Linked DNA regions of Homo sapiens. The protein of the gene in region 4 interacts with the protein of the main gene of each other region in a biochemical or structural test. Each region holds a gene or a part of one and is shown on either strand. Other genes may lie near its edges. The genes, in order: UBE3C, NEDD4, ARIH2 and UBE2L3.

Region 1 (8,265 bases), on a different chromosome or scaffold from region 4:
TCTCGAGCGCAGGGAAAGCTGGGTGCTGCCTGTGTGGTGGCAGAGTCTGGAGGGCTTGCTGTGCTGGGGACTAAAGAGCAGGAGGACTGCAGGTGAGGCGTGCAGACGACTTTTTATCGGTAAAGATTTTAATGCCATTTGGTAATTTTGTCATTAACATTTATTATGATAGACAAGGCTTCTAGTATCTTTGTTTCAAAACTGGTTTGTTCCAAAGCTAGAGATAAGAAAATTATGCATCTCATCTAGTTTCATAAAAGGAAGTTTGGAGGACCTGCTCCCATCAAAACACTGGAAGATGCAGAGACTTTTGTCAGCTCCTGGCTAATTAGATAATGCTAATCATGTGAGTAGCAATAAAAATTCGAAGTCCTGCCAGACGTAGGTTCTAGACATTCTGACAGCCAACTAAAGAGCCAGCAATAACGTGTGCCTAGGAGTGCGAGAGCCTTCTCCACCTCCGTGATGCCTCCGGGTTCGTGCATGGCCACTTGTGCTGCGTGAGCGTCGTAGGTTTAGGGGAACAGAAGTAGAGGGATTTACATGAGCTTTTAAAATCCCAAATAGACTGGCCAGGTGCGGTGGCTCACACCTGTAATCCCAGCACTTTGGGAGGCCAAGGCGGGTGGATCCCCTGAGGCCAGGAGTTCAAGACGAACCTGACCAACATGATGAAACCCCGCCTCTACTAAATACAAAAAAAAAATCAGCCGGGCATGGTGGTGCATGCCTGTAGTCCCAGCTACTTGGGAGGCTGAGGCAGGAGAATGGCTTGAACCCGGAAGGTGGAGGTTGCAGTGAACCAAGATTGCACCATTGCACTCCAGCCTGGGCAACAAGAGCAAAACTCTGTCTGAAAAAAAAAAAAAAAAAAAAAAAAAAAAAAAAATCCCAAATAGACTAAAAGGGAAAATCCTACCCCAGTCAAGACCCCGCACAATCATAATTGAGTTATACCGTGGAAAACACTTTGAGCATCCATGAGACGGTCTTACTGTTTTTTTTATTTTTCTCAATGTTCTAACATATGTGAAATTTAATTGATTTTTCCATGATAAGTGTTTTTGAAGTTGTTATATGTTAGACATCCAGTTTGGAAAAATCATCTTAATATTTAGGCTTTCCGGTTAGCTTAGTATGCCTGGATTTGCCAGGGCTGCAGAATTAATGTAGACTTAAAGGAAGAGAATGTCTTTCAGTTGAAGTACTATAAATAGCAAAGGCAGGCAGGCATAATTTTAAAGTTATGAAACTCCTTAGTGCCAGATTATTGGAGAAGAATAACATCTGCTAAAGCTAATTAAAGTTTAATATGTTTAATAAATGTGATTGTTACAGACAAAAAATCATTAAAGTGCTGTAGAAAATTGTTAAGTTACCATCAGGCCACATAATAAATTAATGATTTTTCTCACTCTGAATTAATGCAAATTCCCGTTGTACTGTATTTAATTATGCACAAAATGGTGCCCTTGACTCAGATTTCAGTGAAGAACTTCATTTTTTTACTTTTAAGTCTCCAAGTAGGAAATTCAATTAGCGTTATGAAAGAAACACTAAAATGTGGCATTTAATTGCAAAATATATTTTAAGCTTTTCATTTATCCAGTGACTTTGCCAGCAGTCACTGACCCCTTCATTCAGAGATCCTTTTCTGTTTCAAAAATGCAATGCTTCCTTTTTAGTATATTCAAGCATTTGTGAAAATTATTGCCCTCATGTACTCAGAATGCTGAATAATAAGTGTAATAAATGTTATTTCTGGTTCTCCTTTGGTTCTCATTCTAACATTTTTATGAGAGATTTAAAGGAGCAAATAAACTATAATTAGAAAAAAAAAGACAATGGATTTTAGCACATATTATATGCCACATATATATTTTTTAATGAAGTTTACATTTAACAGTAAAGAGACCTACAAAGATCAGTAATAAGAATCATGTAAGTCTCTTCATAGGCTTTTTTTTTTTTTTTTTTTTTTTTTTTGAGATAGAGTTTCGCTCCTGTTGCCCAGGCTGGAGTACAATGGCCCATCTCAGCTCGCTGCAACCTCTGCCTCCTGGGTTCAAGTGATTCTCCTGCCGCAGCCTCCCGAGTAGGTGGGATTACAGGCACCTACCACCACCCCCAGCTAATTTTTTTGCATTTTTAGTAGAGGCAGGATTTCACCATGTTGGCCAGGCTGGTCTCGAACTCCTGACCTCCGGTGATCCACCCACCTCAGCCTCCCAAAGTGCTGGGATTACAGGCATGAGCCACCGCGCCCATCCTCTTCATAGCATTTTGTGGGCTGTGCTCTTACTAGTTTTACCCTTAACATAAATTATATGCTAAACTCAACATATAATTGAAACAAAATCCAACTGAAATGTGGGTGTGGCCAGTTGGGTGCCTGTTGTGCTTTGTGACAGCTTCAGTGCTTCCAAAGGTTCCTGCAGAATGGGACATTGCTCTAGTTTGATTCACATTTGACTACAATGGTTAGAAGGTAATTACCTTTTCTATTTTTTAAATTTTTTTGAACATAAACTCAAGATTGTATTGTCTTCATAATAAAACAAAAGATGACACTTAGAATTGGATGTCTTGGCCCTTCCTCCTCTTCTGTCCTCCCAGTTCAGAATGCTCACATCTCTTTATATCCAGCATCCTCTTACATCTGCACCTATGCTCAACGCACTCAAGCCTCAGCACAAGCTTCTTCGTAGTTCTAGCCTTTTCCCGGAAAATCAGCTTAGTCTGCCCACCGTAGCCGCTATGCTTCGTGTCCTAACACCACCTTCCCCGGGCACCTGTCCTAACGCCACCTTCCCAGGCACCTGTCGTAACGCCACCTTCCCCGGGCGCCTGTCCTAACGCCACCTTCCCGGGCATACAGAGAATCCGTGCCCTTTTGTGCCGTGTCGCTTTGTGGGCTTGCCACACTTACAGAAAGTCGAACGGGGGCCGGGTGTGGTGGCTCACGCACTTTGGGAGGCTGAGGCGGGCGGATCACCTGAGTTCAGGAGTTCTCGACCAGCCTGGCCAACATGGCGAAACCCCATCTCTACTAAAAATACAAAAATTAGCTAGGTGTGATGATGGGCACATATAGTCCCAGCTACTCGGGAGGTTGAGGCAAGAGAATTGCTTGAACCTGGGAGGCAGAGGTTGCAGTGAGCCGAGATTGTGCCATTGTACACCAGCCTTGTTGAGAGAGCAAGACGCCAACTCAAAAAAAAAAAAAAAAGTCTAGCAAGTATTAGGAACATTCACTTTGTGGGAGCGCTGTTGGCACCGAAAGCACTTTTTTTATATTGGATTTTTTTTTTTTTTTTTTACCTTTCAGTAAAAGTAATGTTTTCATTATAGAAAATTGGAAATTGTGATCAAGTATAAGAAACCTATATTTCCTCCCATTCTAACCATTATTTTTTTATGTTTCCTTCCTTTAATTAGTATGTGTTTTATCTACCTACATGAGTGTGTGTTAATGTAGATATGCATAATTTTTTCTGTTTTTGGTAGAGGTAGGGTCTTGCTCTGTTGCCCAGGCTGTCAGAAACTCCTGGCCTTGAGTGATCTCCCACACCAGCCTCCCAAAGCACTGGTACTACAGGTGTGAGCCAACATGCTCGGCCTGTTACACACACACACACCTGGTATTACAGGTGTGAGCCAACATGCTCAGCCTGTTACGTGCACACACACACACCTGGTATTACAGGTGTGAGCCAACATGTTCGGCCTGTTAAGCACAGAGACACACACCTGGTATTACAGGGGTGCGCCAACATGCTCGGCCTGTTACACACACACACACACACACCTGGTACTACAGGTGTAAGCCAACATGCTTGGCCTGTTACACACACACACACACACACACCTGGTATTACAGGTGTGAGCCAACATGCTCGGCCTGTTACACACACACACCTGGTACTACAGGTGTGAGTCAACATGCTCGGCCTGTTACACACACACACACACACCTGGTACTACAGGTGTGAGCCAACATGCTCGGCCTGTTACACACACACACACACCTGGTACTACAGGTGTGCGCCAACATGCTCGGCCTGTTACACACACACACACACACCTGGTATTACAGGTGTGAGCCAACATGCTCAGCCTGTTACACACACACAAACATATATATTTTTAAGACAGAGTTTCACTCTTATTGCCCAGGCTGGAGTGCAATGCGTGATCTCGTCTCACTGCAGCCTGCAACCTCTGCCTCCTGCCTCAGCCTCCCGAGTAATTGGAATTATTACAGGCATGCACCACTACAGCCGGCTAATTTTTTATTTTTAGTAGAGATGGGGTTTCGCCATGTTGGTCAGGCTGGTCTCAGAAATCCTGACCTCAGGTGATCCACCCGTTGTGGCCTCCCAAAATGCTGGGATTACAGTCATGAGCCACTGCTCCTGGTCACGTAATTTTTAAATATAATTTTAGCTGTATCTTGTGTTCAGTTTTCTAGGCTACCTTTTTCACTCAACATTACATCAGGATCATTTTTCCTCATGTTATTCTTTGAGATATTTTTAATGGGCTTGTAGTGTCCCATCATGTGATTTACCAGTTTACTTTCTGTTTTTTAGTTGTTTACAGCTCTTCCTTCGTTGTGATGCTGTGAACCTCTTGTGCATAAATTATCATGTGCATCTCTAATTATTTCTTAGAGTACAGTCCCAGGAGTTGTGAATGTGGGTGAAGCCCCTGCTCCTGCTGCCAGGCCCACCTCTCAGAGAGTTTCGTGTACACGTGTGCAGGGAAGGGCTGACCTAGCTAGGTCTCTGAAACCCGTGCCAGATACTAAATCTGCACAGGCTGCGACAGTGAGCAGACTGAGGGCGATCTGTGCCTTATTGTCTTCCTGTTGGAAGAGAACACATAAATCACGTATCTCAAATGTGAGGCAAATAGCTAATGGTGTTTGTGTATACGAGGAAGGTGGAGTCACCGGTTCTTCGTGGCCATCAGAGGACCGACACGCCCATAGGTCTCATGCATTAAGTCTGCGTTGAGCAATCCCTAACACGGTTTTTGCCTACAGATACATTTGCACAACTGTGAAAACCAGGTACGTATTCATTGCATCATTTTTTGTAAAAAGCTGAGAGAAGTGCCCAGCAACACGTCGTGCCGCGCGTGTGCATGGAACACCATATAGCCTCACCATTAATAGGCAAGATGAGCGAGACCCATTATCAGATGAGAAAAGCACGGCACGGAATACTGTGTCCAATGTGCTCACCGTCTCAATTTTAAACCTAAAGGAGGGAGAACATTTTCTCATGCGTGCATTTCATCTCTGGGAGCACTTAAGACGCTGAAGCGTTGGTTGCCAGTGGGAATGGGAACTGGGTATCTGTGATACAGGGATGAGAATTTTCACACTGTACCTTTAAATACCAGAACGTCATGAACACATCTGAAAAACAATATTCAAATTTCCCTGATCATCTTTCTTTTTTGTTAACAATTATTTAAATTCTGGCACAAGCAAGCCACTTTTCATCATGCATTTGGTCTATAGATGTTCTACCTCCCTCAATTTCGTCTTGTAATTTAATGAATAGGGGAACTGGGGCCGGGCACGGTGGCTCACGCCTGTAATCCCAGCACTTTGGGAGGCTGAGGCGGGTGGATCACGAGGTCAGGAGATCGAGATCATCCTGGCTAACATGGTGAAACCCCGTCTCTACTAAAAATACAAAAAATTAGCCGGGCGTGGTGGCGGGAGCCTGTAGTCCAAGCTATGCGGGAGGCTGAGGCAGGAGAATGGCGTGAACCCGGGAGGCGGATGTTGCAGTAAGCCGAGATTGCACCACTGCACTCCAGCCTGGGTGACAGAGCAAGACTCCGTCTCAAAAAAATAAATAAATAAAAATAATAGGGTAACTGGGTTGCTTCTTTGTATCTCTTGAAAACTGATAGAGGTCTCATCAGATTCTAAATTTGAATTTTTCTTTTTTTGGCAATAACATCACATAGGTAATGTCGTATGCTTCCCATTCCCTTAATCATCGTGGAGATCCACTTCTCGTGAGTCATCTCCCCACAATGCTGGGATCGATCTCTGCGTCAGAATTCCTCTTGATTTTAGTGGTCACTTATCACTGCCTAGATCCATTGTTTAATGTGCTTCTAAAACAGCCGTGTTCTAATTACATAATTGTATAATTTATTAGCTGGAATTTTCTATTTAAAAACAGCTTTGTTTCTTCTCACCAATGATTTGGTTAACCCGAGTAATAGCTTGTACAGGAAAGATAGAATAAATCTTGATCCTTTTTAAAAAATTTTTATAGACAGGGTCTCACTGTGTGTTGCCCAGGCTGGAGTGCAGTGGTGTGATCATACCTCACTAACCTCGACCTCCTGGGCTCAAGACATCTTTTCACCTCAGCCTCCCAAGTAGCTGGGAGTATAGGGGCAGACCACCACACCTGGCTAATTGTTTTGATTTTTATTTTTAGTGGAAATGAGGTCTCGTTATGTTGCCCAGGCTGGTCTCGAACTCCTAAGCTCAAGCCATCCCCCAGCTAGGCCTCCCAAAGTGCTGGGACTACAGGTGTGAGCTATGCGCCTGGCCTGGAATGTTATTTATCCCTTTTTATGCCTGAAGCACAGTGCATAATCTTTTATGTAAGTTAGAACTAAGCCATCAATGTAATTTTTTAAAAAAGCAAATGTGGGCCAGGCACGGTGGCTCACGCCTGTAATCCCAGCACTTTGGGAGGCAGAGGTGGGCAGATCACAAAGTCAGGAGTTCAAGACCATCCTGGCCAACGTGGTGAAACCCCTTATCTAGGAAAAATCCAAAAATTAGCCAGGCATGGTGGCAGGCACCTGTAATCCCAGCTACTTGGGAGACTGAGGCAGGAGAATCGCTTGAACCTGGGAGGCAGAGGTTGCAGTGAGCTGAGATGGCGCCATTGCCCTCCAGCCTGGGCGACAGAGCTAGACTCCATCTCAAAGAAAACAAACAACAACAACAAAGCAAATGTGGTTTCGGGAAAATGTGACTGCAATGGTAACTTTACTGATTGGAGCAGGCACATTTTGTGTACTTTGTATTAAAACTCATGTAATGCCATGCTTGTTACAGTGACATCTTGCACACATGCTGTTTTTCAGGAGTTGTATCCCGCATTTTGTATTCACAACGGAGGCTCCGACCTTGAGCGGCTCCCCACAGCCAGCACCTGCATGAACCTGCTGAAGCTCCCCGAGTTCTATGACGAGACACTTTTGCGAAGTAAACTTCTCTATGCGATTGAATGTGCCGCTGGCTTTGAGCTGAGCTGAAGCTGATGCTGGGGTCAGACCCCTACAGAGAACCAGTGCTTCCTTCGTCAGCAGCGCCTCCCCAGACCCACGAGGATACTCACACTGCACGCCTGAGGCTCTCCTAAGCTCCTTCTTTCATTCTGCCATTCCTCCCTCCCTTCCTTTTTTAAATGATTTTTATTACGGTGTGGTCACTTATTTAGATGGACATTGCTTTTCAAATAACTTAAAATAACACGTTATGTGCCATGTGGCTACTTTAGTAATATTGCCAAGAAGAGCACAGTTTTTACACTAGTGGCATCTCAGTGAAATTAACCAAAGATGAAGCTTTGGCTTTGCTGGTGAGATCAGAGCCCTCCTGAGCAGGCAGCGCCACTCCAGGGTTCAGACAGGGCTGCACAGGCGGCAGAGATACAGGGTCTGAGGGCTGAGACGCCATGGGGCCGCTGCTGCTTATGTGGTTGGATTGTTTACAAGCCTCATTATTAAAACTGAAGGCATTTTTTTTTTCTGCTGCCTTTCCCAAAGTGGTTAGGTTTGGAAAAGAGATGATGATGGTAATATTTTATTTGTGCTTTTTAAGCCATTTCCCCAAATGGGACTAGCATGCTTGTTTTCAGTATACCGTGGCCTGCCTCATGATGGTTTGGAGATACTGTCTGTGGATGTGAGGTGGGGACTTCATTCATTGTCCTATTTCTATCTCCACTTTGTGCCTGGAGAGCTTTCAGGGGAGGTGGAGGAGGAGGGTCTGCCAAGCTACTGCAACATCTGTCACCCACTATACCCAGTTACTTGGGGGAGGACAGACACTGTGGTGTCATTAAAGTTGTTTGAACCAAAGTGGCGGCTGCATCTTTGTCCCGATGCTAGCCGTGCCGGTCTCCCATCATCCGCTCGCCCTCCTTTCCCCTGGGCTGCGCCCACTTGTCTTCCTGGATATTTGGGGGTGACTCGCCATGCTTGGCACCCTCT
Region 2 (4,456 bases), on a different chromosome or scaffold from region 4:
AAGATCAGAGAGACCCACCTAAACTGAGTGATGAGTGATGGGCTGTCCCAAGACAGGCTAGAACATTCCATCTTGGAGGCTGAAGTGGCAGAGAACTCAGACATTTGGAAGATGTGGTGGGGGCAGCACTCCACAAGGAGTTGTGCAGAGTATCCATGCCCAGAACCCAGTCCTACGTCTTACTTCTACCCCTGGTGAAAAGACATATTTTGGTGGTGTTGGAACATTCTCATCAAGAATAGCAGCATTGCTCTGTTTGCTGTGGTGGTACTTGCTTTGTCAGTGTCTTTCATAACCACTTCCTCTCTGTTCTTTCAGTTTTAATCGCCTGGACTTGCCACCTTATGAATCATTTGAAGAATTATGGGATAAACTTCAGATGGCAATTGAAAACACCCAGGGCTTTGATGGAGTTGATTAGATTACAAATAACAATCTGTAGTGTTTTTACTGCCATAGTTTTATAACCAAAATCTTGACTTAAAATTTTCCGGGGAACTACTAAAATGTGGCCACTGAGTCTTCCCAGATCTTGAAGAAAATCATATAAAAAGCATTTGAAGAAATAGTACGACAACTTATTTTTAATCACTTTTAAATAATGTGTTGCATTTACACAGTTGTTTCATGCTGTCTTTAGAGTTAGGTGCCTGCCTAAAGCCAGGCACCACCACACCTGGCTTTAGAGTTCACACAATAGGATATAAGTCCTGTATGACTTAAATAGTGAATTTTGTCCTTAACATTTACCTCTTGTATAGTATCTGCCAGGCAGTTTTTTCTTAAACTACTGAGATGATAACTGTGAAATATTTGTGATACGTGTCATGTGTGAAAAGTTTGATGCATTTTGAGATGGAAAACTGAAATTTGGAAAAAGAAATACTTTACTATTGAGTAAACTACAATATATTTAGTGCTACTCGCAGCTATTTATTATTTTGTAGACCTGCCTTATGCACCTTACTGCCTAGATTTTTGGGAAAAAACTTTGGAAAGTGTGTTACCTATATTTCTAGCCAACTAACTCACAGAAAAACTGTTTACTTCTTCACTTTCGAAGTATTTGGCTTTTGTTAATATGCAGTTTTACTAAACAGATGGTTCATAAGACATGTGAAGCAAATTCATATTTGCAATGGGTAAAAAGTATTAAAGCCTTTCTCTTGCCTGCATATCCTATTGACCATTGGTATAGTCATCACTTTTTCATATTTTAGTGTAGTTAGAAGAATTCCTTCTTCAAACATTAAAGATCCACAAAGCAGTATTTCTAAATATGCCTTGAAGAACTAAATGAAGTGTATAGCACTTGCCTTTACTAGATATTCTTTACACTTGTACAATTATGTAGTAAATGTATGTTTACAGGGTTTATCATGTTTACAGATTAAGCTAATTTCTGTAGTCGCATTTTTATATTTTTAGTATCACTCTAGTAAAAAAACCAAATAATTTGTTTAAAATAACCAAAGAGTTGTTATAATGCATAATTTGTATTAAATTTATTACTATTTCTTATGCCTTTTAAAATACTGTTTACTATGAAGACAATGTTTTTAATTACAAATCCAGAATTCTGTAGGCAAAATGCTACAGTTCATATCTTCCTTTAACCAAACTGAAGTACATAAAGACCATGTACATGTATTCATCAAACGTTTATTGAATGCTGCGTGCCTAGCGCTGTGCTATGCTCTGGGGTAAGAGTTGTCAGCTTCAGAGAAGCTGAGTCCTGATCCTCAAGGAACTTGCAAATGTGTCTATGAATTTGTAAAACAATCAAAAGTAGGCGTAAGCAGAATAAGGCAAAAGGGAAAGTGTTCTAGGTTCCAGCACACCTGCAAAGATAAAGTGTGCCAAGACTGTATTTATATTTCATACTTATATTGTTTCATCCTTATATTGGAATGATTATATAGAAAATGCTCTTAAAAAGATTAAACCTATTTCTCAGTATGGTATCTTGGTGATTTAGGAATAATTGTAAATATATGTTACGAATCTTCTTAAATATATATATATACACACCCTGTGAGAACTGTAAAAAGTACCTCTGGTTCTTGGTTTAAGTTTGTTGGGGTATAACATGATGAGTACTCATTAGCACCTGATAGAAATCTGAAATGTGACAGTAGCAAAACCACTTTCTACTTTCCAAACACCACAGCATCAGCATGGTTTAGGGGAAGCAATTCACAGATTAATGTACCCTGCGTTTTGTCTTCACCATTGTCAACCAGCAGTCAAGGATGAGCACCAGGTATAGTCCTGGTTTGATATCTCACCAGCCATGTGAACTGAAGCAGCTTACTTAACCTCTCTGGATTCATATTTCTTCATCTGTCAAATGAGAGTAATCATGCCCACCCTCATTGTCATGCCAGATTGTCAGAAGTTCCAGACAGATGAGAAAGCAAAAAGTACTTTGTAAAGTGTTATACAATCAGAAGGTGCTTTGTGCTGACCGTCAGATTGTGTCAAGTCAGGTGTGCAAATTGACCACACTCCCAAAGAATCATTTAAAAGTAAAGTGACTTCTAAGAGACAAGGAAGTAGGAACATTTCTGATATTAAATATATAAATAATATGGATACACATGTGTATATCTGTATATGGATCTTACCATCATAATTCATTTTCTTCATATCAGCAAAGTAATAGTAATGTGGGCCAATGCATTTTGGAAATGTCCTCATTATGTAGAATGGAATGTGAAAATTATTTTTGTTAAAACAGGATTTTGCCACAATTATTTAAATATTATGTTTGTGAACTATCTAAGCATGAGAAAATACAAAGCTTTCTTTGTATCTGGCTGATACTCATTTGGATGATTCTGTGACTCATAGAACATGATGTTAAATGAGACCAGACTCAACTGCCACCAGTCCCCAGCTGCAGACCTTCATCCCCTTCATCTCCCACTAGGGGCTCGTGGTCTGGAAGAAACATCTATCAAGCAACACAGCCCCTTATCCCAGATAGAAAAGTGTCTCAAATGCATTCTACTGCGGGACAGTCAGTAGGATCATTTTCATAAAGCAAGGACATCATATGTTTCTAGAAATTACAAGCATATAACTTTAGCCTACAATCTCTTATTAAAAATTTTTAACAAAATTGTATTACAAATGCATTTCATCAGAACTCAAATTTAAATGGTGTTTGTTTTGGGTTTTTATTTATAATGCTGAAGTTATTCCATATAAGTATCAAGTTAAACACAATTCATTTTGATTATAAACTATTTGACTTTTTAAAATCTTCTGACACAGTAAATATATATATCAAGATTGATGTATCAAAATTTATTGCACACTTTAAAGTGTAAAATCATTTTTTAAAATCTTGAATCCACAAATAAAGTTCTATTCTGATTTTAAAAAACAAAACAAAACTGTGGTTCATTATAAAATAGGAGTGTTTCCAAGTCAGTATGCTGGGTGATGTCTTCTGGTCTAGTTCCTCACAGCAGCACGTTAAATTTTCAGTGCAATCCTAAACTTATTACCTGATGAACTAACATGATTATAAACTCTCAACCACAGATAATTAATTTCCACTTTACAAAAAGGTCGTATTGCATAAGTCTGGTTGTTAGTGAAATAGCCAGAAGATAAAAATAATAGCTAAAAATGGACTGGATTTCAGGCACCTTGCTGCTCATCAAAGAAGCCATTCTTGTAGCCAACCACTATTTACAACATCATTTCTATGAGAAAAAGAGTTCGGAGTGTTAATTCAGAACGAAGTGTCTTTTCCTCCTTCCTCTCAGGCATGAGAATTAGTTTCCCAGTTAGAAGGGAATCCACTCCCACCCACTCAAGCCAGCCTGGGAAGGTGCTGTTCCAGCCCCCTGTTTCTGCCATAATCCAGGCCATAGCTTTTAATTTTGGGGACCTAGGCCATGGCCCTCTGCTTCCACGTTTCCTGTTCTAGCCAACTCGGGCAGCAGCTAGCCCACAGCATGCCCCACCTGTACAAGAAGTCCTTGCTTTGCTGTCCATCACGGCAGACATTTATTTTATAAATGATATTAAACTAAGGTATTAGAATGTCAGTACCTCATTATGAAGAAAGAGACTTAGTAGATTTTTGTCTTTTTCCTTGAAAGTTAAAGCCTATCACACTAGCCTCCTCTTTCTGTTCCGCTCATCTCTTCCCCTGCAATGCATCCTATGCAGTCCCTCCATCACAATCAGTGTTTCCTTTTTAGCACACAGATTTGATCAGGTTACTGTACCGCCAAAAAACCTGAGAGCTCCCCAGAGCCAAAAGCATGAAGCACAAACCCGTTAGCATGGAGGTTCGCATGGAATGCAGTCCATCCTCAGCCTAAGGTCTCAATTCCACCTTCCATCATACCTCACTCAGGTGCCCTTGGTTCCCCTCCAAATCAGAGTCCTTCCAGCCCCTAATCACTGCAGACTCCGGTGCCACCTGAATGCTTTC
Region 3 (8,265 bases), on a different chromosome or scaffold from region 4:
AGGCCAAGAGCTACAGGCTACAGTCTGAGCACAGAAAACCCTCCAGCTCCAGCATCCAGGGCCACAGCTGGACACAAGTACAGAACCTGGCAGCCCTGCAGCCCAGACAATGCCCAGGGTGTGATTTAGGGTGCAGAGCTGCAACTCAGATCCTGTGCCATGGCAGTATCACAGGAAGGACTTGACGGAGAGGTGAAGGCTCCAGACGCCAGGATATTTATTCCCTGTGCCAATACAGCATTCACACCTGACCTCCAGGTCCTGCAGCAGGTACTCTCCTCATTCACAGTTAGCTCCCCACTGTTCCATTCTGGGTTCATTTGCTATACTCCTAATCTGTTCTCCCAATCCACCCCACAGTCTCTCCCTTGCTGGGGACAACACAGGAAGAGACAAAACCTGAGGAAGGAAAAAGGGAACCTGCAACCAGCCATGGACCTCATGATCCCATGAGTCACAGCTATCCTCTGTCTTTAAGAATGACTGTTTTATAGCTTACATGGTACCTGGGAAATTGCTGACTTGCAGCTGAAATGTATGAATACCAAAGAATTTCTATCACAATATTCACAGATCTCTGTATCAGCTCTACTTGGAGGTCAAGCAGGCTTGGGAGAGTATAGACTGCTCTGCCTGCCCTAGAGTGGAAGCATTGAACAAAGCCACAAAAACCCCAGAGATCACAGATCTAACTTTTCAATGGCCCACAGGACCAGGTTCAGGACAGGTAGGACACCAGGCAAACCACTTGTTCCCTTGCGCTTCATTGTGCAAAAGCTGGTCTGTTCCTCTGGCCAGACCCTCCTTAGTACAGGATCTCGGACCACAAACCAAGGAGTCTCGTGGCCTTGGATTCCCAGACCCTAGGATGGTATCCCTCTGACAGCTGGAACCAGGCAAGGGGGAACACACCTCAGCCTCAGAGCAGCCTCTGGACACTCTCCAGGTAACATGAAAATAACTTGTGCAAACACAGCCCCCATGCCAGAAAGTCCAGTGCCCTAGGAAGGGCTATCCTGAATTCTGACCCTGATGTTTGCCAAAGGAGAATGCAGCAAGACAGTGTCAGGTTTGGCCAAATGTGACCCTGCTCAGAGCTATACCACTTGAATACTGGCACAAAAGAAAGGACCAAGGTAAAGCAAATTTATTTGGGAGGAACAATTCCCTTCAAAAGTAGATCCCTATCTTTAGGAGACAAAAGGCAACACTGTGATGAACCCACACCCCCTAGTTTGGGGGGCCACAGGCCCAACCCCATTCTGCTGTGGGCTCTAGCCTCAGTAGCCAGATCCAGGTAAACCTCAGTTTCAAGAATAAAGGTGAGCCACAGACATGCAGCACCACCAGAGACAACAACACCCCGTGGCAAGAAGACCATGTTCTGGACTGTCTCCGTACTGCCACGGTAAGGCAGGAGGCATGCTGTGACCCCTTGTGCTCCATGCCCATTGCACAGGCCAGTTCAATTCCCTACCATCTGCCACCCATGCTCTTCTTTGGGACTACAACTCTGGCCAAACGTGAATATGGAAAGCAGAGGCCCAGGGCCCTCTTGCAGTACAGACATTTTGAGGTGGGTAGGCAGCATATGTTACATTCTAAGTAAAACAGCTAGAGGGTAAAACACTCCAATGCCAATTTATTTTCAAAAAGGGCTCTGTGTTATCCTATAGTTTGCCTTTTTTTTTTTTTTGTATAATTGTACAACCTTTGAAAGTTACATAAGTTGTAATGATCTAATACTATTAATAGCCATTCAGAAAACACTTTCCCTCCCTCCCAACAACCATCCAGGGGGAAATAAAAGTCCTGAAAAGAGGCCAGTTCAACATGGCCTCTACCCTGGTAGAAACAAAAAGTGAAAAGAGAAGAAAACAGAAATCAACTAAGAGGTGTTGCCAGTGTCTCTCAGGAGTGGGGCCCTGGCTGTTGCCTGGGGTCATGAAAGGCAGAGCCTGCAGCATGCAGTATGGCAGCCGGGAGACCTTGCAGCCACATCTTCCTCACCCCGGCACATCCACATCCCAACTTAGGTGTCATGGAAATCTTTCAGCAGGGTTCTCCTCCGCTGCTCCGCTATATGCATCTGGTTCTCCAAGTCCTGCATCAGAGAAACAAGGTGTGTGCTTGCATGGCCCAGGCCTGGGAGCAAGGAGTAGCCAAAGCCACAAACACCCTCCAGGACCTCCAAGGAGTCAAAAACACTGCCCTTCCCATTCTTAGCAGCAGCTACCAGTGCACAAGCCAACAACGCTGTCACCTATTACCATGCCAGTCCTCTACCTGCAATATAGAATCCAAGAGGACAGTAGGCACTTACCCCTCTGTCATAGCTGTCTGCACGCTCCACTTTCCATGAGAGGTTTTCGATCTCAGCCTCCAGCTGAGCCTGCTGGTATTCAAACTGTATAGGCAGAGCAGGAGGGTCAAAAGGTGAGTGGGCTGTGGCTGGGGCAGGGCCTGTACACGGGGGTGGGCACATGCAGCACCTCAGGCTCACAGGAACTACAGACAATCCTGATACTGTCCTCAGAAAGTAGTGTTATTCCCTGTGCCCAGAGCCAGAATCCAAACAAAAGGCTATCCAAACAGCAAGGCCACATTCACCCTCGACCCTCAAAAGGTCCACTCCACCCTCCACACTCCCAAAGGCAGGCAAAGAATTTAAGCCACTAAAGAGAACACTCCCAACATGAAAGGGAATGGATGCTGTAAAAAATAAGTCAAATGAATATTCTCAGACACTATCACTTCATTTTTTTCAGTCCTCCAGCAAATCAAGAGCCTTAAAAATATTCAAACTTAAATACTTAGTAATCATACATCTAAGAAGATATACAGCTTTATGCACAAAAATATTCCTCAATGTCCTATTTATAGCAGTGAAAGAAAGAAAGAATAAATGTCCCAAGTGATGGTACAATCATGTAATGACACATTTATGCAACCATTAACAAAATGGTATTTACCAGGCAGGTAAATCATAACAGCTATAACAATAAACTGTTATAACAATAAAATGTTATATATAACCTTGATTATATATACACAATGTTAATTTTAAAAGGCTGGAAAATGCTGACAGTGGTAATTTCTCTCTGGACAATGTAAATGCTTTTCTGTTTTCCAGCATTTAAACAAAAATGTTAATTACTAGTTTATTAACACTATTGGTAATAACAATAAATTCATATTCAAATTCAACTCTAAGATGAAGAATTAAACAAGGTATAAAACAGTCAAATATATCTTAAGGACATGCATGCTAAATATCCCTCCCAAGCATGGGCACTACTGGCCTCCCACTGGCCACAGACCTTTTTAGCCAATCGCCCTTTAAATACAGTTGTTCAGAGGATTAGGTGCATGTGCCTTATATGACACAAAATAATAGCACCTGAGATCTATTTTGGAGGTGCCCAGAGCAGAAGTGGAATTTTGCAATTAGAGTTTTGTTTTAACTTTGCCCTCCCAATGACCAAGGTCTGGTCCTCACTCTCCTGCAAAGTGCTGGTAGAGAAGGGCACCTTTGAGGCTAACGGGACAGAGTAGAAAAATTGCTTTGCCTTACCAGCTTCTTCCTGGGTCCGGACTCCATGTAATATGCATATGGGTAGGTGTATTGCAGGGTGTATCGACACTGCAACAGGAGAGAAGAGAAGGAACCTGTGTCTGTGATTCTAAGCTACCTGCATCTCAGGTGGCTCTTACAATTCCTACCCTCAACATGCAAATTAGCCCAGCTCTATAGATATAGGCCTGAAAGAAATGATACTAGGCCAAATAGAGGATGAATTGGGAAAAGACATGAGGGAAAAAACAAACAACGATGGTCACAGAACACCCACAGTTTCTTTTACAAACTGATTATCAGCAGCTGCCTCAATGGATTTTCCCTCTTGAGTAGGACATCAGAGTCAACACATCTATCTCAATGCTTAGCCAAAGACAACCTTTTTTTTTTTTTTGAAACAAGGTTTTGTTCTGTTGCCCAGGCTGGAGTGCAGTGGTGCAATCCCCACTCACTGCAAACTCTGCCTCCCAGACTCAAGCGATCCTCCCACCTCAGCCTTCCAAGTAGCCAGGACTACAGGTGTGCATCACCACACCAGGCGAACGTTTGTATTTTTTTTGTAGAGACGGGGTTTTCTCATGTTGCCCAGGCTGGTCTCAAACTCCTGGGCTCAAGCAATGCACCTGCCTTGGCCTTCCGAAGTGCTGGGATCATAGGCGTGAGACACTGCACCCTGCCCAATCTTTTTTTTTTTTTTTTTTTTTTTTTTGACAGTCTTGCTTTGTCACCCAGGCTGGAGTGCAATGGTGTGATCTCGGCTCACTGCAGCCTCTGACTCCCAGGTTCAAGCAATTCTCGTGCCTCAGCCTCCCAAGTAGCTGGAACTACAGGCATGCACCACCATGCCCAGCTAATTTTTGTATTTTTATTAGAGACAGGATTTCACCATGTTGGCCAGGCTGGTCTCAAACTCCTGACCTCAAGTGATCAGACAATCTTTTATTTTCCTTTGAGTGATACATAAACAGGACAAAAGGAGAAGAAAAGTGCTCTAGTTTTCCCTGCAGGCAGAGGCAGTGCAACACTCTTATAAATCCCCTGGACATCCATCAGAGGACTGGGTCCTTAATGGGCACAGCACATGAAAATGTGGATCCACAAGCAGAAGCATGAAAGGCTGCACAGGGTGCTAAAATACCCTCTTTCAACAGAGCTTCCCACTATCAGAGGTCTGTGCCTGACGGAGCCAGGCACTGGACCAGGGATAAGATGAGTGAAGTGGTAGATACCTTGGCCAAGAGCTTGGCAGCATTCTGTAGGTACTGCCAGTCGATCCATGTCCCCAGATTGTTCATGACCCTCTCCTGAATCTTCTCGTGAATCCGCTGGTATGTCTGTGCCTCTAGCTGCAAGCTTTTATTGTGGTTTTCCCACTACAGGGCACAGAAGAAGAAGAAAACCACAGGAGTCCCATGAAGGTGCAGAGGTCTACACAGGAGTTCAGGATAGACACCTTGCTGGCAGGACATGGCCACAGACTCCTCTAACTTATTCCCCAAAGTGCAAGAGCAGGTCTTCTTCAGTCCATCCTTCTAACCTGTCCAGAGCAGCTGTATGCTTACTGCCAGATCGCTCTACCCTTCTGGGGCAACAGGACTCGAGCCCTGAGGACTCTGCAAAGCTAGGCCCCTGATGGTCTACTATGCTTAGAGACCATTATGCATGGGGCTCTTTGGGCTTCTAAAGGGCTCCCTGGGAGAAACTGCCTTCCAAATCTGACTACTAAGATGATACTATGGGAACAGATTGTGAGGACAGAAAGAAAAAAATAAATAAAAATTAAAAACGTAGAAAAAAGAAAAAAAAAAAAAGATGGTACTAGATGGAAAAGACTGTCTGATGGCCCTTCATTGTCCTTCAATCCATCATTCAACCAAGGTCAGTACCAGGTCCTTCCCTGTTGGCTGGGGATATACCCTATAGAGCTTGAAAGGCACATCTATAGAGGCAGCACCAGGGATACTGCAGGAGCTCCATTCACTGACTTCTATGTGCACAGGCTAGCTCTGTCTACCAGTCCCTGGGAATCCCACCAGCAGGCCAAGTGGAAGAAGCCTACCCTGTAGGGGAAGGTACAGGAGAGGACACCTACCCTCTCAAAGTAGAATAAGTACTTCTTGAGGGCTTCCCTCGCCTGGGCTTGTTGGCTCTGGTTCACGATGTCAGGATTCTCCTTGTAACGACTGCACTCATAGTATTCACTGCCATGAGTCTTCCAATCTCCTAGACACATCCAGCAGAAGTCTGTGCAGAACAGAGGAAGAGTCATTTACATCTACAAGACAACTCCACTTTCCTCCATAGGCAGAGGAGTGAGACAGACAGACCCTGCTCCCAAAGGGGTCACCTGAACACAACTTCCCAAGGGTGCCTCTTTCCCGAAGGAATGTGCACCTCTCATCCCTGTCACATCCTACTGTCCTTGTAGCCTGTACTTGCTGATAGGAACAAAAGCCTATGGATAATTTCTATTCCATGAGCACATGTGCCATGCGCCTTATTAATCTAACACAGGCAGATGCTGACCATACAGACTACTGGTCTGCTATGTCAATGCCACTATAAGAAGGAGGAACTAGTCCAACTGAGGCCGACCTGACTGTCTTAAACGCACATCATCAGTACAAACTGACCTCCCTACTGCTTCCTACCCTCACACTTGTCCTAGAAAGATTTTTGTATATGAAACTAAGAATAAAGGCTTTCCCCCTTTTTCTTCTATTTTAAAAAACACATTTCTTATTTTTCTTTTTCTTTTTTTTTTTGAGACAGAGTCTCACTCTGTCACCCAGGCTGGAGTGCAGTGGCGCGATCTTGGCTTACTGCAACCTCTGCATCCCAGGTTCAAGCGATTCTCTTGCCTCAGCCTCCCGAGTAGCTGGGACTACAGGTGCCTGCCAACATGCTGGCTAATTTTTGTATTTTTAGTAGAGATGGGGTTTCACCATGTTGGCCAGGCTGGTCTCGAGAACCCCCAGTGTTCAGTGATTCGCCCATCTCTGCCTCTCAAAGTGCTGGGATTATAGGCGTGAGCCACTGCGCCTGGCAAATAACACATTTCTATAAAACCTAGAGCTATCCAATGGTTCATAATCAGAATTATGATTCTGCTTTTGCGGTAGCTCACACCTGTAATACCAGCACTCTGGGAGGCCAAGGCGGATGGATCACCTGAGGTCAGGAATTTGAGACCAGCCTGGCCAACATGGTGAAACACCCGTCTCTACCAAAAAAAAAAAAAATATATATATATATATATACACACACACACACACACACACACACACACACACACACACACACATACACAAATTAGCCAGGTGTGGTGGCACATGCCAGTAGCTACTTGGGAGGCTGAAGCACGAGAACTGGTTGAACCTGTAGGGCGGAGGTTGTGAGCCGAGATTACACCACTGCACTCCAGCCTAGGTGACAGAGCGAGACTGTGTCTCAAAAAAAAAAAAAAAAATCCCCTATATGTTCAAAAAATTATTGTTAGATGCTCAAAGAATTACTGCAGTCTAATGGAGAGAAGCCAACCACAGTTTTGTTGGATGAACAATGGCCTGTTGATATTCTGCATTCCATGAGCACATGGGCTATGTGCCTTGTTATATCTGTGTCAAGGCTGCTATGAGAAGCAAAACTTGTCTGAAGTCCTCCTGGTTGTCTAGAACACACATTGTTCTAATAATACCTTATTAGATTTTATATCTGGCCTATTCTGCCTCTTCCAGACCCTGACAATGGTAAATCCTGTTTCCCAGGATTCACTCTCCAGGGATAACTTGGCTTACTGACTTCCCCAAAAATGAGGCTCTTGAATCATTTTAGGGAAGCCAAAGCAAAACCCGGAGACCCAGAGGTTGTTCAATTTTTCTCCTCCTGGGAGCCTTCACCTAATAGTGGCAACAATGCCCTCTCCTTAATTAGCTAGGTGTGCTTGCTACCATTTTAAAGAACAATACAGGCCGGGCACGGTGCCTCACGCCTGTAATCCAAGCACTTTGGGAGGCCAAGGTGGGCTAATCATGAGATCAGGAGTTCACAACCAGCATGGCCAACAAGGTGAAACCCCGTCTCTACCAAAAATACAAAAAATTAGCTGGGTATAGTGGCGGACGCCTGTAATCTCAGCTACTTGGGAGGCTGAGGCAGGAGAATCGCTTGAACCCAGGAGGCGGAGGTTGCAGTGAGCCGAGATCGCACCACTGCACTCTAGCCCAGGCGACAGAGTGAGACTCTGTCAAAAATTAGCTGGGTATGGTGGCATGTGCCTGCAGTTCCAGCTACTCAGGAGGCCGAGCAAGGATAATTGCTTGAACCTGGGAGGTGGAGGTTGCAGTGAGCCGAGATCGCACCACTGCACTCAGCCTGTCAGCCTGGGTGACAGAGTGAGACTCCATCTCAAAAAACGAAACAAAACAAAACAAAAAACCACATTCCCTACGGTTGCCCATATAGGTGGTATAAAACATACAGCAAAGAAAGAGATGGCAGTTTTTTGTTTGTTTGTTTGTTTTTGAGACGGAGTCTCACTCTGTTGCCCAGGCTGGAGTGCAGTGGTGCGATCCTGGCTCACTGCAACCTACACCTCCCTGGTTCAAGCGATTCTCCTGCCTCAGCCTCCCGAATAGCTGGGACTACAGGAGTGCGCCATTGCGCCTGGCTAATTTTGTATTTTTTTT
Region 4 (8,437 bases):
ATCAGCCTGACCAACATGGTGAAACCCCGTCTCTACTAAAAATGCAAAAATTAGCTGGGCATAGAGGTGTGCACATGTAATCCCAGCTACTCGGGAGGCTGGGGCAGGAAAATCGCTCGAACCCAGGAGGCGGAGGTTGCAGTGAGCCGAGATTGCGCCACTGCACTCCAGCCTGGGCGACAGGGCAAGACTCCGTCTCAAAAAAAAAAAAAAAAAAATTTATTACTGGCCGGGTGTGGTGGCTCACGCCTATAATCCCAGCACTTTGGGAGGCCAAGTCGGGCAGATCACGAGCTCAGGAGATCGAGAGCATCCTGCCTAACACAGTGAAACCCCATCTCTACTGAAAATACCAAAAAAAAAAAAAAAATTAGCCAGGCGTGGTGGCGGGCTCCCGTAGTCCCAGCCACTCAGGAGGCTGAGGCGGGAGAATGGCGTGAACCCGGGAGGCGGAGGTTGCAGTGAGCCGAGATCGCGCCACAGCACTCCAGCCTGGGCGAAGAGCGAGACTCCGTCTCAAAAAAAAAAAATTAATACTTTTTTTTTTTTTTTGAGACGGACTCTCACTCTGTCACCCAGGTTGGAGTGCAATGGTGTGATCTCGGCTCACTGCAACCTCCCCCTCCCGGGTTCGAGCGATTCTCCCGCCTCAGCCTCCCAAGTAGCTGGGACTATAGGCACCCTCCACCACACCCAGCTAATTTTTGTATTTTTAGTAGAGACGGCATTTCACTATGTTGGCCAGGCTGGTCTCGAACTCCTGACCTTGTGATCCGCCTGCCTCAGCTTCCCAAAGTGCTGGGATTACAGGTGTGAGCCACTGCACCTGGACTATTTATTTTTGTAGATATGGTAGTCTTTCTATGTTGCCCAGGCCGGTCTTGAACTCCGGGCCTCAAGTAATTCTCCCGCTTCAGCCTCCTAAAGTGCTGGGATTATAGGTGTGAGACTGTACGCAGCCAAAAAAGTCTACTTCTTTTTCTTTTCTTTCTTTCTTTTTTTTTTTTTTTTGAGACATGGTCTCACTCTTTCACACAGGCTTGAGTGCAGTGGCACGATCACGGCTCACTGTAGTGTCACTCTCCCGGGCCCAAGTGATCCTCTCACTTCAGCCTCCCAAGTAGCTAGAATTACTTGGCCATCACACCTGGCTAATTCTTTTTTTATTTTTTGTTGAGACGGGGTCTCCCTATGTTGCCCAGGATGGTCTCAAACTCTTTGGCTCAAGCAATCCTCCTGCCTTGGCCTCCCCAAGTGCTAGGATTACAGGCATGAGTCACCACAAGGTTACTTCTGATGGGAGGCTTGGGCAGATGGCACAGAAAGGATAGGTCTGTATGAACAAGGTTTGGCTGAGTGGAGGGGATCGGGTATGACTAGAAGCCAGGCCTGCTAGAGGGAGCAATGAAGGTTTTAGAGCAGGAGAGGGACCCCAAAGGCCAGGCAGCCCTTCCACTGGGACTGGGTACATTTCCTGAGTGCTTGTTTAGTAAAAGCACTTTGTAGCTCAGCGGCTTGACTCCCCACCTGCAAAGTGCAAGGGAGTCATCTTGCAGGCAGCGGTGAGGATGTAAGAAGATGCCATGGCAAAGGCTAGTCCTTGACATTGAGCCTCTGATGATCCCACTCTGTATTCTCAGCTTAGCACATCCGGGTCAAAGGTATGAACTGTGCTTCCTCAACTGGCTTGGAATTTCTCAGCGTAAGCGTCCCCTTCCTCCGTAATTCTCCACAGAGGAAAGCAGTTCCCAATACAGCTATGTTTTTTATTTGTCCTGGGCCCAGTAAGGGCAGGTTCTGTGCTCACAGTAGACCCCAGAGTCAGTCCCAGACTTCTAAGTCCCACCATGACCCTAGAGATCTGATGGGGTCCCTCATGCATACGCTGAATGTGTATTGAACACTCAGTGTACTGGCCTTGGGGGAGGTAAAAGGCAGGCAGAATCGCTGATCACATGAGGCTTGTCATCTAGTTTCTCCCTCCTTTACCGTGTCAAGCCTGGGCTCCCAAGATGAGTGTGAGGCCAGCCTTATTCCAGGATATATATATCTATATATATATATTTTTGAGACTGAGTCTTGCTGTGTTACCCAGGCTGGAGTGCTGTGGAGCTATCTCCACTCACGGCAAGCTCCGCCTCCCGGGTTCACGCCATTCTCCTGCCTCAGCCTCCCGAGTAGCTGGGAATACAGGCGCCCGCCACCACGCCCGGCTAATTTTTTGTATTTTTAGTAGAGATGGGGTTTCACCGTGTTAGCCAGGATGGTCTCAATCTCCTGACCTCGTGATCCACCCACCTCGGCTTCCCAAAGTGCTGGGATTACAGGTGTGAACCACCACACCCGGCCCCAGGATATATTATTTCCAGTTCCCTTTCCTTCTCTCCTTTCAGGAGAAACCCACTGTTCTTAGAAATGGAGAAAAATGTCCAGGCCCAGTGACTCACACCTATAATCCCAGCACTTTGGGAGGCCAAGGTGGGTGGATCACTTGAGGTCAGGAGTTCAAGACCATCCTGGCCAAAAATGCTAAAACCCTGTCTCTACTAAAAATACAAAAATTAGCTGGGCATGGTGGCAGGTGCCTGTAATCTATGCTACTCAGGAGGCTGAGGCAGGAGAATCACTTGAACCCGGGAGGCAGAGGTTACAGTGAGCTGAGATCATGCCATTTTGCACTCCACCCTGGGTGACAGAGTGAAACTGTGTCTCAAAAAAAAAAAAAAAAAAAAAAAAAAAAAAGAGAAAAACTCCTTAAGAAGGTCTGAGTATATTCTGAAGCTATGTTCTTCTCTCTGCATTGCTACCTGAGGTCCAAACCACTGTCACCTCTTTGCCTGAATGATTGCAACCGGTTTCCAAGTGGCCCCTGCTCCCCTTCTTATCCTCTTACCCACCTCCATTCCCCATTTTCCAATCAGAGTACTCCTTTTTTTTTTTTTTTTTTTAAGATGGAGTCTCACTCTGTCGCCCAGGCTGGAGTGCAGTGGCGCGGACTTGGCTCACTGCAACCTCTGCCTCCCAGGTTCAAGCGATTCTCCTGCCTCAGCATCCAGAGTAGCTGGGATTACGTTCGCCCACCACCACACCTGGCTAATTTTTGTATTTTTAGTAGAGACGGAGTTTCACCATGTTGGTCAGGGTGGTCTCAAACTCCTGACCTCAAGTGATCCACCCCCCTCAGCCTCCCAAAGTGCTGGGATTACAGGCATCAGCCACTGTGCCAAGCCCCAAAGTACTCTTTAAAACATGCGTCTCAGCCCAGGTGTGGTGGCTCATGCCTGTAATCCCACCACTTTGGGAGGTTGCGGCGGGAGGACTGCTTGAGCTCAGGAGTTTGAGACCAGCCTGGGCAAGACAGTGAGACTTCATTTCTACAAAAAATAAAAAAAAACTTAGGAGGGTGTGGTGGAACGTGCCTGTAGTCCCAGTTAATTGGGAGGCGAAGCAGGAGGATCCCTTGAGCCTAGGAGGTCGAGGCGGCAGTGAGCTGTTATCGTGCCACTGTACTCCAGCCTGGGTGACAGATCAAGACTCTGTCTCAAAAAAAAAAAAAATCATCTGACCATGGAGTCAATACTCATATCTATCAAAGACCTCTCACAGCACATGGAATAGAAACCAACTCCTCCCCTTTCTACAAGACCCTCCATGGTCTGTCCCCTGCCTCCCTCCCACCCTATAATCCTTTTACTCCATTCTGGACACTGAGACAGCCTCATGGTCTTCGCCAGTGCTGCTTCCTCTGCTTGAAACATTCTCCTCCAGTCCTCCCAGCTGTTCCTTCCCATTTTCCAGGTCCCAGCATTGGCTTTGGAGCCAGCAGCCCACCTGTGACAGGAGCCTGGCTCTGCTCCTAGCTGGCCGTGTGACCTTGGGCAAGTCACTGGCTTCTTCTGTGCTTCTGTTTATTGTGAAATGAGGATGTTAATGCTAACGTATCCCAGAGGATGGTTTCAAGGGTTAAAGAAAATAAAGCACTAGAGAGAGGTCTGGCACTTAGTAGGGCCATTTCCTCAATTTGGCTTCCTTGACCTCTCAAAGTATGTCCCCACAGTCACTTTCCTATCACCCAGTTTTCTTCACAGAGCTTGGCAGTGTGAAGTAACCTTGGTTATTCAACTTTTTTTTTTTCCCCCAAGACGGAGTCTTCCTCTGTCACCCAGGCTGGAGTGTAGTGGCAAGATCTCGGCTCACTGCAACCTCTGCCTCCCGGGTTCAAGCGATTCTCCTGCCTCAGCCTCCTGAGTAGCAGAGATTACAGGCGCCCGCCACCACGCCTGGCTAATTTTTTGTATTTTTAGTAGAGACCGAGTTTCACCACGTTGGCCAGGCTGGTCTCGAACTCGTGACCGCGTGATCCACCCGCCTCGGTCTCCCAAAGTGCTGGGATTACAGGCGTGAGCCCCCGCGCCTGGTCAACTATTTTATGCAATCAGTATTTATTATGCTCCTACTATGTGCCAGGCACTGGTTGTAACTGCCATCTGATTGGACGATCCGTAAACGCTGAGGCCCAGTCTGTGCGGTTCACTTGCGTTCCTCCACGCGCCCCCCAGCACAGTGGGAAGCACACAGTAGGTGCTCCGCTCTGCTCCTGTGCCCCGCCCCGCGGCCCCTCCCCCGCTCCAGGAAGTGCGGGGGCTCCAGCCGCCCGGCCGGCCGCGATGCATTCTGGGGAAGGAGCAGCACCAAATCCAAGATGGCGGCCAGCAGGAGGCTGATGAAGGTAAAAGCCATTCTCTGGCAGCGGCCGGGCGTGGGGCGGCGTCCTAGGCTCCGGATCCCCGAGGCAGGCGGCGGCTTCTCAGGGCGCTGCCGTCTGGCTTCCTGCCCTACACGGCCTCGTCGGTTCCCTGGGCCGCGCGCAGGCTCAAGGTGCTAACGGGGCTGGCCTAGGCCGCAGCCTGGGCGGGAGCGCAAGGCCGCGCTGGGAGCCGCTGTCGGCCCCTCAGCCCGGCCCGGGGCGTTCACGCCACTCTCCGCCCGGAGCTTGGCCGCGTCCCCCTGTCGCGGAGGCCGCGGTCCGATCTGAGGGCGTCGTTAATGTGAGAGCCCGGTTGGGAGGCTCCAAACCGGGCGCCTTCGGGGAAGGCCCGAGCGCCGGAGCCCCTGCCCGGAGCCCGCGCCGCGGAACCGCCCCGCCCTGGGCCGCAGCGCGCCGGGCTTGCAGCTCCGCTTGGCCCGGCCGCAGCTCGGGAGTCTGGGAGGTTCGGGCTAGGAAAGAGAGAAGGAGGCCAGGCGGCCAAAGTTAGGTCAGTTTGTTGGTGGGTCGTTTGGAATTGCGCTGGGTCCTAGCAAACTGTCGCCTTGTGACTGCAGAGTCACACAGCGGGTAAGTTCCAACTCCAGGAAGGCCTGAGGTCGGCCCCGATCGCGGCGCGGTTCTGCTTCCCTCTCCTCCACTCAGTCATCCCGATCTCCCCTCCCTGATAAAGTGCCATTTTTGGGGGGATAACGGTTGATTTCAGTCGTTCGAATCAAAACGGGCCAAAGTTTATAATAATAATTTGGTACTTTGGATCTTGAATGCAGCAGGGTGCTTTCTCGCTAATTGGCACCTTTTGGTGAGGAACACATGCTAAATTGGCTTAGTACTTTTGCCAGTGGATTTGCCAAGGTCCTCTGTAGCCCACCCCGCCAGCATCTGTGAGTCGGCGGCTGGGTAGTGCTGCCGGCCTGCAACGGGCCGGAAATTAAAAAAAGGCCCAGGAGCCAGTTTCCTGAGGGGAGATAAAGAGCTGGGGTTCGTTCTAGGCGGAGCAGTGCTTGGTAGAGCTAGACATTGAACTTGGAGCCACAGTCTCTGAGCATTCCCTCCGTCCCTGGGAACGTTTCCTTTCTTTTGTTCCCTAAGGGCTAGAGAGGACATTAACTTTATAAAACTGGAGTGGAAGTGGGCACAAAAGAACAGTCAGAGGACTTCAGACCTCTCCTCATCTCTTAAGCTAGTGACACCACCATTCACCAGATAAGGGGTCGGTTAATGGCTTTCTTTCCTACCCTACTCCCAGGTGCAGTCGTCCATTAACCCTTGTGGATTTAAATTTAGAAAGATTTCTGGAGTGCAGGCCGGGCGCGATGGCTCACGCCTGTAATCCCAGCACTCCTGGGAGGCCGAGGCGGGCGGATCACTTGAGGTCAGGAGTTCAAGACCAGCCTGGCCAACATGGTGAAACCCTGTCTCTACTAAAAATATAAAAATTAGCTGGGCGTGGTTGCATTTGCCTGTAATCTCAGCTACCCGGGAGGCTGAGGTGGAAGAGTCGCTTGAACCCGGCAGGTGGAGGTTGCAGTGAGCCAAGTTTGCACCACTGCACTCCAGCCAGGGCGACAGAGTGAGACTCCATGTCAAAAAAAAAAAAAAAAAAAAGATTTCTGGAGTGCATGCCTTGCTTTCTAATGTTACTGAAATTACTCTGAATCTATATCCTCATCTCTCAGGTGCCCTCCCAAGTGCTCTCCTCCCCAGACTACCCCTGACGGACACCAGAGTTCTTTTAAAGCAGATAACTCAATTCTTTCACTCCTGTTAAAAACCTCTATGGTGTTATTGTCCTCAGCAGTTAATCCTAACCTCTTACTTGGCATGCAGGACCTTTCTGAGACTGGCTGAAAGCAATCCCTTGAGCCTCACCTCCTGCCCTTTGGTTTCCCACAGTTCTTGCACCTAATCACAGTAGCTACTATTTTTCCAGCTTTTACTTCGTGCTTTATATGCATGATCATGTTTAATCCTTCCTGTGAAGTAGACATTGTGATTTCCATTTTGTCGATGAGAAAAGATTCTTTGGCTTGCCCAGGGTTACCTAGCTAGGGAGAGTGAGTTGTGATCGAATTCGGTTCTTTCTCCAAAGCAAAGTCTCCTGCTCTTACTTGCTGTCTGATGTCCCTTTGCACGTGTTGTTTGCTCTACCCAAGAAAAGCTGCCTTCTCCTCACTTCTCCCTTCCAGAGAAGTCCCAGGTTCAACTCCAGTGCCAACTACTCTGTGAGCCCGTGCTCCCACATCCCCCTTCAGAATGTGTTGTTTCCTCCTTTGTGTGACCACAGCGCTTTCTTTATATTTCTCTTTGAGCACTTGTCACAATCTCTTTGTGTTACAGACTTGTCTTTCCTGTACTGGGTTCTGAGATCCCGAAGGGCAGGGATCTTGACCTAATTCATCCTGGTAGCCCCCTAGCCTATCCCAGTTGACCCAGTTTGGAATCTCCAGGCTCTCAGGGGTCTAAGAGGGGACTTATTATGGTTTTAAAATTATTACTCTGTTTCTAAAAAAAAACAGACCTTGGAAAAAAATTGTAACATTAACTGAGTATTTATTAAGTATTAGGTTATTTACGTAAGTCATCTTTTCAACACTCAAAGTTAGTGTATTGTCATTTGTATTTTTTATAAATGAGGACATTGTGAGGTTAAGTAGGTTAAGGGAGTTACCTAAGGTAGAATTGTGGAACGTGGTGGGGAGAGAGAAGACGCTGACTCTTCCTGGCTCCAGGATCCAAATTCCATGCCTCTTGTCAGGCTGTCTTTCTTACTCAAAGGCTGCATGGAGCGGTGTGTTGTTTCTTAAGTTGAGGATGGAAAGGCTTTCAGTTCACTAGGGGAACACCAGTTATGTAATGCTGATCATTGGCTGTGAGAATCAATGTTTAAGACTGTTTTTTTTTTCTTTTAAAGGAAGAAAAATTATTGATACAAGTTGATAAACAGTCTTTTCAGTACATAGGGTGGTAATAAAGTGATTTTCGTTGGTGAAAAGTTGGGGCTTAGTGCATGGAACAGTGCCTTAGGCATAGCAATCTAGCAAATGTTGAATGATCAAATTAATTACATCTTAAAGAACTTTAGATTTCTGTTAAAAATGTTTTCTAGGACATTCCACAGCAAAGATTTCTTTGTAACAATGGACTGTCTGCAGATAGTGTAAAACACATTATTAAAAGTAGAGTGATTTACATATACTACACTGAGAAGTTATTTTAGGCAAAGTGAGTATGATAAAGTCTTTTATTTCAAAAGCACTTGCCAGGAGGCTTAACCTCTTTTAGAAGCCTTTTTAGGAATTACAGTGTTAATAAAACATTAAGTACATTTTAATTTGCAAGCAGCTAATTTAGCATTGTTGGCTACAACCAGATTGTAACCATTGCTTCAATCAGGATGGGGAAATTGCTGCAAAAGCCAAAAGTGAAACCTTTATGTGTGGCTTAGGCAACTGATTGCCATCTGATCATTTCTTTGCAGCTTCACACTGCACACATTTCCCCTAAGGGCCCTCCTGTTGAGTAGCTTCCCAGAAGGGCTTTTCTCAGAGGGGAAATCTGTGGATTTAGAGGGGTGTGTGTGTAATGTCTTATTACTTATCATGACATAACTGTTGAGTTAAGGAGTTTCACTCTTGTTGCCCAGGCTTCAGCGCGATGGCACGATCTCTG

What was found.
Region 1: the proteins of UBE2L3 (region 4) and UBE3C form a complex in vitro, tested with the Homo sapiens proteins (6 studies listed by BioGRID, with this or other methods).
Region 2: the proteins of UBE2L3 (region 4) and NEDD4 form a complex in vitro, tested with the Homo sapiens proteins (19 studies listed by BioGRID, with this or other methods).
Region 3: the proteins of UBE2L3 (region 4) and ARIH2 form a complex in vitro, tested with the Homo sapiens proteins (8 studies listed by BioGRID, with this or other methods).

The regions. Positions count from the first base shown.
Region 1 is NC_000007.14:157,260,451-157,268,715, forward strand, and holds part of UBE3C (ubiquitin-protein ligase E3C), read left to right. Parts: intron 1-7,134; coding exon 7,135-7,305; 3' UTR 7,306-8,265. UniProt on the Homo sapiens protein: E3 ubiquitin-protein ligase that specifically catalyzes 'Lys-29'- and 'Lys-48'-linked polyubiquitin chains.
Region 2 is NC_000015.10:55,825,862-55,830,317, reverse strand, and holds the end of NEDD4 (E3 ubiquitin-protein ligase NEDD4), read left to right. Parts: intron 1-318; coding exon 319-421; 3' UTR 422-3,396; downstream 3,397-4,456. UniProt on the Homo sapiens protein: E3 ubiquitin-protein ligase which accepts ubiquitin from an E2 ubiquitin-conjugating enzyme in the form of a thioester and then directly transfers the ubiquitin to targeted substrates. Specifically ubiquitinates 'Lys-63' in target proteins.
Region 3 is NC_000003.12:48,977,038-48,985,302, reverse strand, and holds part of ARIH2 (E3 ubiquitin-protein ligase ARIH2), read right to left. Parts: intron 5,822-8,265; coding exon 5,670-5,821; intron 4,951-5,669; coding exon 4,807-4,950; intron 3,670-4,806; coding exon of another isoform or gene 3,644-3,669; coding exon 3,575-3,643; intron 2,408-3,574; coding exon 2,324-2,407; intron 2,105-2,323; coding exon 2,033-2,104; 3' UTR 1-2,032.
Region 4 is NC_000022.11:21,563,043-21,571,479, forward strand, and holds the start of UBE2L3 (ubiquitin-conjugating enzyme E2 L3), read left to right. Parts: upstream 1-4,671; 5' UTR 4,672-4,702; coding exon 4,703-4,729; exon of another isoform or gene 4,730-5,335; intron 5,336-8,437. UniProt on the Homo sapiens protein: Ubiquitin-conjugating enzyme E2 that specifically acts with HECT-type and RBR family E3 ubiquitin-protein ligases.